Linked DNA regions of Homo sapiens: region 2 is linked to region 1. The links come from fine-mapping of genetic effects on gene expression. A gene starts in region 1. The other region holds a variant in brackets. All regions are shown on one strand. Distances are from middle to middle. Region 1 holds the start of EPS15L1 (epidermal growth factor receptor pathway substrate 15 like 1). Region 2 has its middle 25 kb from the start of KLF2.

The links. PIP is the estimated chance that this variant, and not a neighbour inherited with it, causes the effect.
Region 2: its variant is the best candidate, but not a certain one, in a credible set for the expression of EPS15L1 in whole blood (TOPMed, PIP 0.65).

What each region holds. Positions count from the first base shown.
Region 1 is chr19:16,469,836-16,474,219 of GRCh38, reverse strand. EPS15L1 (epidermal growth factor receptor pathway substrate 15 like 1) reads left to right here and starts at 2,250. Exons shown (of 24, transcript NM_001258374.3): 1 at 2,250-2,307. The coding sequence starts at 2,275. RefSeq lists silencers at 2,019-2,418, 2,479-2,698 and enhancers at 2,779-2,928, 2,161-3,072.
Region 2 is chr19:16,347,830-16,352,213 of GRCh38, reverse strand. No RefSeq gene overlaps it. Among named protein-coding and RNA genes, the nearest start is that of KLF2, 25 kb to the right of the region's middle. The variant C/T (reference allele first, on the strand shown) is at 1,700.

The DNA.
Region 1 (4,384 bases):
CATTTCCTGGACGCCGTTGCCAATTGGCAACGTTCCTGTCATGCTTTATTAGAACAAAGTTGGGAGGCAGAAAGAGGGGAGAAACCATTTTTTCAGACTTCTGCCAGTGGCTTAGGTGGTGGTGACAACAACAACTGTGACTTTCGCAATCATGGTGGAGGCAACTGTGGCTAGCAAGGGTGAACACATCTGGGATCCTTCTGTAGGCACAGTGATTGTGGGTTATGGGTCCTCCTGTGCTTTATTTATTTATTTATTTTGAGACGGAGTTTCGCTCTTGTTGCCCAAACTGGAGTGCAGTGGCGTGATCTCAGCTCACTGCAACCTCCGCCTCCCAGGTTCAAGTGATTCTCCTGCCTCAGCCTCCCGAGTAGCTGGGATTACAGGTGCCCACCACCACAACCGGCTAATTTTTGTATTTTTAGTAGACACGGGATTTCATCATGTTGGCCAGGCTGGTCTCAAACTTCTGACCTCAGGTGATCCATCCACCTCGGCCTCCCAAAGTGCTGGGATTACAGGCGTGAGCCACTATGCCCAGCCACCTCCCCTGCTTTAATCTTTCAGCTCTAGAGAGGCTAGCAGCCTCATATAGTTATGAATCTTTAGGTAAACTTACCTTCCTCTTTTGTTCTTCCAGTACTTCCAACACTTTTATACTCAGTCCCCTGTAGTCGTTTATGTATTCATTTATTTTTATTTATTTATTTTTTAGACAGAGTCTCGCTCTGTCACCTAGGTTGGAGTGCAATGGTGAGTTCTCAGCTTATTGCAACCTTCCCCTCCCAGGTTCAAGCAATTCTCCTGCCTCAGCCTCCTGAGTAGCTGGGATTACAGGCACCTGCCACTGCACTGGGTTAATTTTTGTATTTTTAGTAAAGATGGGGTTTCTCCATGTTGGCCAGGCTGGTATCAATCTACCTGTCTCAACTGGATTGCTGGGATTACAAGTGTGAGCCACAGAGCCTGGCTCAATCCCCTGTATTCAATATCCTCTGTTTGAAGTACCTAGAAGGACTTCTCTTTTCCTTATGGAATACGTACTGATAAAGCACTCAAGACTGTTAAAAACCTTCATTACTCTATTGATGTAACAAAAGAAGCTGAGGCAAAGTTAATATAAGTAGAGAGTTTGGGCCAAGGTTGAGGACCGCAGTCCAGGAGACACAGATTCAAGTTGCCCTGAATGTATGCTTTGATTAGCAACAGTTACAAGTGGGTTCTTTTTGTTTTTGACTTTGTTTTGAGACAGAGTCTCACTCTGTCACCCAGGCTGGAGTGCAGTGGTGCAATCTTGGCTCACCGCAACCTCCACCTCCCGGGTTCAAGTGATTCTCTGGCCTCAGCCTCCTGAGTAGCTGGGACTACAGGCATGCACCACCACACCTGCTAATTTTTGTATTTTTTTTAGTAGAGATGGGGTTTCACCATATTGATGTTTCACCATACTGGCCAGGCTGGTCTCCAACTCCTGACCTCATGACCCTCCCACCTCGGCCTCCCAAAGTGCTGGGATTACAGGTGTAAGCCACTGTACCTGGCAACAAGTGGGTTCTTGTCTTATTTATTTATTTATTTTTGAGACAGAGTTTCGCTTCTGTTGCCCAGGCTGGATTGCAATGGTGTGATCTTGGCTCACTGAAACCTCTGCTTCCTGGGCTCAAGCAATTCTCCTGCCTCAGTCTCCTGAGTAGCTTGGATTTCAGGTGCCCGCCACCACAGCCAGGAGGACGCCTTGCGGGGCAGGGTGAGGGGGGCAGGGTGCGGGTCCCCCAAATTAGCGCGCACACACACACACACACACACACACACACACTGCGATCCTAGGAACAGGGCGCTTTGCGGGGCAGGGTGAGGGTCCCGACCCTCCGCGGGGTGGGCGACCGCCTCCCCAGGCGCACTGGCAGGGGGACGGCATCCCTAACAGAGAACCAGGCCTCGGCATGGGCTGGAGGGATGACACAGCATGGTCGACTCGGACAGCGGCCAGCGGCATGAGAGTCCGAACAACGTTGGAAGGAGGAGTAGGGGAACGGGCAAGAGAGCACGGAAGACGCAGATGCCTCAGGCCCAGCCCCTCCAGGCTGCGTGTGGGCGGCCCCGCCCCTGCCCCCGCCCCTCCCGGCCTGACTGCACATGCGTGGCCCTGTCTACGGCCCCGCCCTCTCCCGGGACAGGCGGCCTGCGCACCGCCCTCCCGTCGTCCCAGTGCGCACGCGTGGCTGCAGCCCCGCCCCCGTTCCCCCGGCGCTCGGAGCCCGAGTCCGCGGGAAGATGGCGGCGCCGCTCATCCCCCTCTCCCAGCAGGTACGGGCCGGGCGGGCCTGGGGGCGGCGCCGGGGTGCGGGGCGCGAGGCGAGCGGTGCGGCGAGGCTGAGGCGCTGGGAGACTCAGCCAGGCGGCGGCGGGGGCGGCGCGTGCTGAAGGGCTTGCGGCGGGCGGGTGGGCAGGCGGCCCTGAAGGTGACAGGCCGGGACCCGCGGCCTCCCGTGCCCGAGCGACCCTCGCGGGCACCGGCGAGGCGAGGAGGTGCGCAGCGCGTGTCCTCTCCGCCCAGGGCCCGGACCCTGCCGCCGCTGAAGCTCCCAGGCCGGGGACCCGCGGAGGCGCTGGGCTGCATCCCGGAGGGGTGGGCGAGGGGTGCGAGCGTTTCTGTCGGCGCGGCGGCCCAGCGAGTCTTTGTCTCCCTCCGGTCCCGGCGCCCGGGCGGGCAGGGTCCCGCCGGAGCCCGGACCCGTCAGCAGCAGTGCGATCTCAGACTGATCCCCTGCCTCCTTGGAAGCTGCTTCCGCCACCCCTGCACCGGGCGCAGATCGTACGTCTCCGGGCGCCTCTCTGTGTCCTCAAATTCGCCTGATGCGCTTATGAAGGGGCAGTATCGATAGCGCGACACAGACATGCGAAAAAGAGCCATGCGTAGGCAGCTCTGTTATTTGGGAGAGACTTTCATTCATTCATTTTCTATCCATCCCTCAAATGTGCGTTGGGTCAGGTGCTGGGAGCGCTGCATTCTTCCAGACAGACAAGGTCGCTGCTTTCCTGGAGGTGACACTCGTGGGAACTAGAAACTACCTGTGTTATGCTAATCACAGCTGCCTTTATTTGCTGAATACCTGTGTTGTGCAAAGCACCATATAAGCATTTTGCTAGAATGATCTAGCACAGCATGGTGATTAAGAGTGAGGACACAGGGTCAGATCATGTGTTCAAATCTTGGCTCCAGCCCCGATTTCTCTGTGCCTTTGGTTGAAGCTCTTAGCCATTCCACCCATCAGTTGCTTCCTTTGGAAAATGGAGATATAAAAATGTGTTGGGATTATGTGAAAATTAAGCACGTGAAAAAGCGCTTAGAACAGTGCCTAGCATATGAGAGGCACTCAGTGATCCTATAATTACTGTCATCATTTAATCTCTGCCAGATTTGGACGTTTGGGAGTAGAGACCGCAGCAATTAAGAATTCCAAACCCAAAGAGAGTTGATAGGCCGGTTGCATGCTTGCATGACTGGTTAGCTGATCCAAGGAGAGAGAAGTGCACAGCTAGCCAATTTGCAACACTGTCACTAAGTTAACAGTGCTAAAACCCGGTGATTATTAATTAGCAAGTTCTTGTTACTGACATGAAAGTGCTCTGTAAACTGTTAAGTGTCCTACCGATAATAGGTGTTAATAGCTAAGTGCTACAGTTTAGAGTATGTAGTCAGGGGGTGGGGGGCGGGGAAGGCGGGAGTCGGGGGAAAATCACCTAAGATCATTTCATGAGAAAGCACTAAGCACTCCCAGTTTGGGAGGCGTGGATCTTTCTAAAACTTCCTGTCCAATTTTTTTTTTTTTGAGATGGAGTATTGCTCTGTCACCCAGGGTGGAGTGCAGTGGCATGATCTCAGCTCACTGTAACCTCCGCCTCCCGAGTTCAAGTGATTCTCCTGCCTCAGCCTCCTGAGTAGCTGGGACTACAGGCACGTGCTACCACACCCGGCTAATTTTTGTATTTTTTTTTTAGTGGAGACGGGGTTTCACCATTTTGGCGAGGCTCGTGTCAAACTCCTGAACTCGAGTGATCCACCCGCCTTGGCCTCCCAAAGTGCTGGGATTACAGGCGTTAGCCACTGCGCCTGGCCAGGTCACTGACTTCTTAGCCTCTTCCTGTTCCTTTCCCTATACATTTGTTGAATGAAGGCGTGGCCTGGTTTTCTTCGTTTGGAAATGTCAGCACTTCTTTACACTTGCTCTCGAGTGAAAATCTACACCATGGGTTACTGTTGGCCCAGGTGTGAGGCATGGCCCTCCCAGGCCCTTACTGTCTAGCTCAGGAGATCACTTGGGTTCACAGATAACTCTGGGGGAACCAAGGGTATAATTCCAAAATTTTTGGTTGGGGGCAA
Region 2 (4,384 bases), 120 kb after region 1:
GCCTGGCCAACATGGTAAAACCCCGTCTCTACTAAAAATACAAAAATTAGCTGGGTGTCGTGGCAGATGCCTGTAATCCTAGCTATTAGGGAGGCTGAGGCAGGAGAGTCACTTGAACCCGGGAGGCGGAGGTTGCAGTGGGCTGAGATCGCACCACTGCACTCCAGCCTGGGCAACAAGAGTGAGACTCGGGCTCAAAACAAAGAAAATCCACATATGACTGAACCCACCCAGTTCAAACCTGTGTTGTTCAAGGGTCATCTATAAACCATAAACTGAAGTTTATGGTGGATTTGGGCGAATGTAAAGATTCCAAACCTTTGGTAATCCCCCTTTTCCAGGTTACAGACCCTCGAGGGGTCCCTGCAGTCCTGGAGATGAGGGTGTTGGGAGGGGACGTCTTCTTGGTGCCCATGGAATGGGCCTGCTTTGTGGATTGGGGCCTGGTGGGGCCTCGTGGGCTTTGTAACCTCTGAGATGCCCCTAATCTTCTCTGCAAAAACGAGCAGCTTCCTGAAAGTGGTCATGGCCGGAGGCAATTCCCAATACTTCCTTCCTCCTGCAGGAAAACCCCAGAGTGAATCTGAAGGTCCCAAGCCATGTGCTTCTGCCGTGATAGATCCCTTTGGAGAAGGCGCTGAGTCACCTCTCTCCAGGGTAGTCACAGCTTTGGCACCATTTGGTTTGGGACTTCACAATTTTCACAGCGATTCAGCTTCCATTATCTTGTTGGAAACTCAAAGCAACCTTGTAAATGAAGAGGGTGGATGTTAGCCCATTTTCCTGAGGGAAAACTGAGACTCATTCCCTGCAGTCATTTGCCCAGAGCTCCGAAGCCAGCCAGGGGCGGAGGCTCGTTTTGCTGATTTGAGAAAAGAATTGAGGGTTTCTTAGAAAACTTCAGGGTTTCTAGTTTCTTGTTGTCTTCTGCTTATTTGCATATTCACCGTACCCAGAAGAGGCAGGTGATGGCTCTTGATATCTTAGAAATGGAAAACCATGTATTGAATTAGGAGCTCTTACCCAGGGGAGGGGACGTTTTTAGGGAAAGCAGTGAACCCCTGAATGCACATTTGCTGGTTTTTTGTTTTTGTTCTTTTTTTTTTTTTTTTTTTTTTGAATCGGAGTCTTGCTTTGTCACCAGGCTGGAGTGCAGTGGCGTGATCTCAGCTCACTGCAACCTCTACCTCCTGGGTTCAAGTGATTCTCCTGCCTCAGCCTCCCAAGTAGCTGGGACTACAGGCACACGCCGCCATGCCTGGCTAATTTTTGTATTTTTATTAGAGATGAGGTTTCACCATGTTGGCTAGGATGGTCTCGATCTCTTGACCTCGTGATTCGCCTGCTTCAGACTCCCAAAGTGCTGGGATTACAGGCATGAGCCACCGCACCCAGCCCTGGTTTGTTTTTTATTGTATGTGGGTTTGCAGTGTTCATAACTTTTTATCTTTTTTTTTCCCCTTTTTTAAGAGATGGGGGTCTCGCTCTCTCACCCAGGCTGGAGTGCATGGCGCAATCATAGCCCACTGCAGCCTTGAACTCCTGGGCTCAAGTGATCCTCCTGCCTCAGCCTCCTGAGTAGCTGACCACATCCGGCTAATTTTTTTTTTTTTTTTTTTTTTTTTTTTTTTTGAGACGGAGTCTCGCTCTGTCACCCAGTCTGGAGGGCAGTGGCACGATCTCGGCTCACTGCAAGCTC[C/T]GCCTCCCGGGTTCACGCCATTCTCCTGCCTCAGCCTCCTGAGTAGCTGGGACTACAGGCGCCCGCCACCACGCCCAGCAAATTTTTTTGTATTTTTAGTAGAGACGGGGTTTCACCGTGTTAGCCAGGATGGTCTCGATCTACTGACCTCTTGATCTGCCCACCTCAGCCTCCCAAAGTGCTGGGATTACAGGCATGAGCCACCGTGCCCGGCCCTGGCTAATTTTTTTTAATTTTTATTTTATTTTTATTTTTATAGAAACAGGGTCTCACTATGTTGGCCAGGCTGATCTCCAACTCCTGGCCCCAAGTGACCCTCCCGCTTCGGCCTCCCAAAGTGCTGCTGATGACAGGTGTGAGCCACTGTGCCCAGCCTCCATCTGATTTTTAAAGAGGTCCTCAGACCCTTTAAAAAGTTAGAAGCCAGTCTCAAATCCTGTTTCCTTCCTTCCCTGCTACACACACACACACACACACACACACTCCCCTGCTGTGTAAATAATCAACATCAAATCCACAAATCCATCCCCTCTCCCATTGGCAGTCTCTTCCACGGCAAAGGACACTCACGCCCTTTCCTGAAGAATAGAGTATCCAATTGGAACAAATGTATGATGAAAATTTCCAAACATAATAGTTGAAGAGAAAAGGACAGTAAACACCCCCACCCAGCGTCAACTGTCATCCAGATTTTCCACCTTTGCCGCATGGCTGTCTTCCTTTGCTCTGGAGAAGCACTTTAGAGCAAGTTGGAGTCAGGATGCCATTTCGCCCACGTGCCCTGAAGCGCACGTCACTGAGACGTGTGGCGACTGACATGCTAACGTATACTCGATGCCAAGGTCACGTCTGAGAAAATGAACAATGACCCCTCCTAGCCATCAGATCTTTCACATAAGAGGCAACTTTTGATTGTTTTTTTTCAAATGGTTTCTTTCTCTCTCTCTCTCTCTTTTTTTTTTTTTTTTTTTTTGAGATGGAGCCTTGCTCTGTCTCCAGGCTGGAGTGCAGTGGCGCGATCTCAGCTCACTGCAACCTCCACCTCCTGGGTTCAAGCGATTCCCCTGCCTCAGCCTCCCAAATAGCTGGGATTACAGGCACCTGCCACCATGCCCGGCTAATTTTTTGTATTTTAGTAGAGATGGGGTTTCACCATGTTGGCCAAGATGGTCTCGATCTCCTGACCTCGTGATCTGCCTGCCTTGGCCTCCCAAAGTGCTGGGATTAGAGGCGTGAGCCACCGCGCCCTGCCTCTTTTTTTTTTTTTTGAGACAGAGTCTCTCTCTTGTCACCCAGGCTGGAGTGCAGTGGCGCAATCTCCGCTCACTGTAACCTCTGCCTCCTGGGTTCAAGTGATTCTCCTGCCTTGGCCTCCCAAGTAGCTGGGATTACAGGCACCCGCCACCATGCCTGGCTAATTTTTATACTTTTAGTAGAGACGGGGTTTCACTGTGTTGGCCAGGCTGGTCTCGAACTCCCAACCTCAGGTGATCCACCCGCCTTGGCCTCCCAAAGTGCTGGGATTACAAGCGTGAGCCACCGCCCCCGGCCCCTTTTCAAGTAGTTTCGATCTAGGGTTGGTTGAATCAGCAGATACAGAAACCTCCAATACAGCAGACAAGAGGCAACTTTCATTTTATTTTTGTTTCTTTATTTTTAGAGAAAGGGCCTTACTCTGTCACCCAGGCTGAAGTGCGGTGGTTGCGATCATAGTTCACTGCATCCTCAACCTCCTGGGCTCAAGTGATCCTCCCACCTCAGCCTCCCAAGTAGCTGGGACTACAGGTGTGCACCACCATGCCCAGGTAATTAAATTTTTTTTTTGTAGAGATGGGGTCTCGCTATGTTGCCCAGGCTGGTCTCAAACTCCTGGCCTAAAGCAATCCTCCAGCCTCAGCCTCCCAAAGTGCTGGGATGACAGGGGTGAGCCGACACACCCATCCGAAAGAGGCAACTTTTTTTTTTTTTCTTTTAGAGGCAGAGTCTCGCTCTGTCAGCCAGCCTGGAGTGCAGTGGCATGATCTCAGCTCACTGCAGCCTTCACATCCTGGGTACAAGCGATTCTCCTGCCTTAGCCTCTTGAGCTGGAACTACAGGCACATACCACCATGCCCGGGTAATTTCTGTATTTTTTGGTAGAGATGGAGTTTTGCCATATTGCCCAGGCTGGTCTCGAACTCCTGACCTCAGGTGATCCACCTGCCTCAGCCTCCCGAAGTGCTGGGATTACAGGCGTGAGCCACCACACCTGGTCGCAAGAGGCAACTTTTGACTGCAACCCCATTGCGTTTTGTCTCCCAGATTGTAACGAGCCGTGTCCTCTTTGTGGGTACCCTTTATCTTCTCCGCATCCAACAACCCAGTTTGGACTGGTGTTCAACTGGAATTCAAGGGCCCACATTGCCCGGTCCAAGCCATGTTTTGGAAAAGGATGACGAATGATCTACAGCCTCCTCTGAGTAAATGAAATCACATCTTCAAAGCCCATTTTATGTAAAAGGACATTCTCATCCTGGAACAGTTGTGGAAGGCTATTTTTAAAACTGTCAGGAAGCGTCTGGGAAACAAAGAAACTGCCTCTTGAAATAATGGAGTCAATATTTCTGCCTCTTATCAGATCAAGTTCCTTTGAAACATGCTACTTTTTTTTTTCCAAAATTTTCCCCAAAGTTACTAGGACCTGTA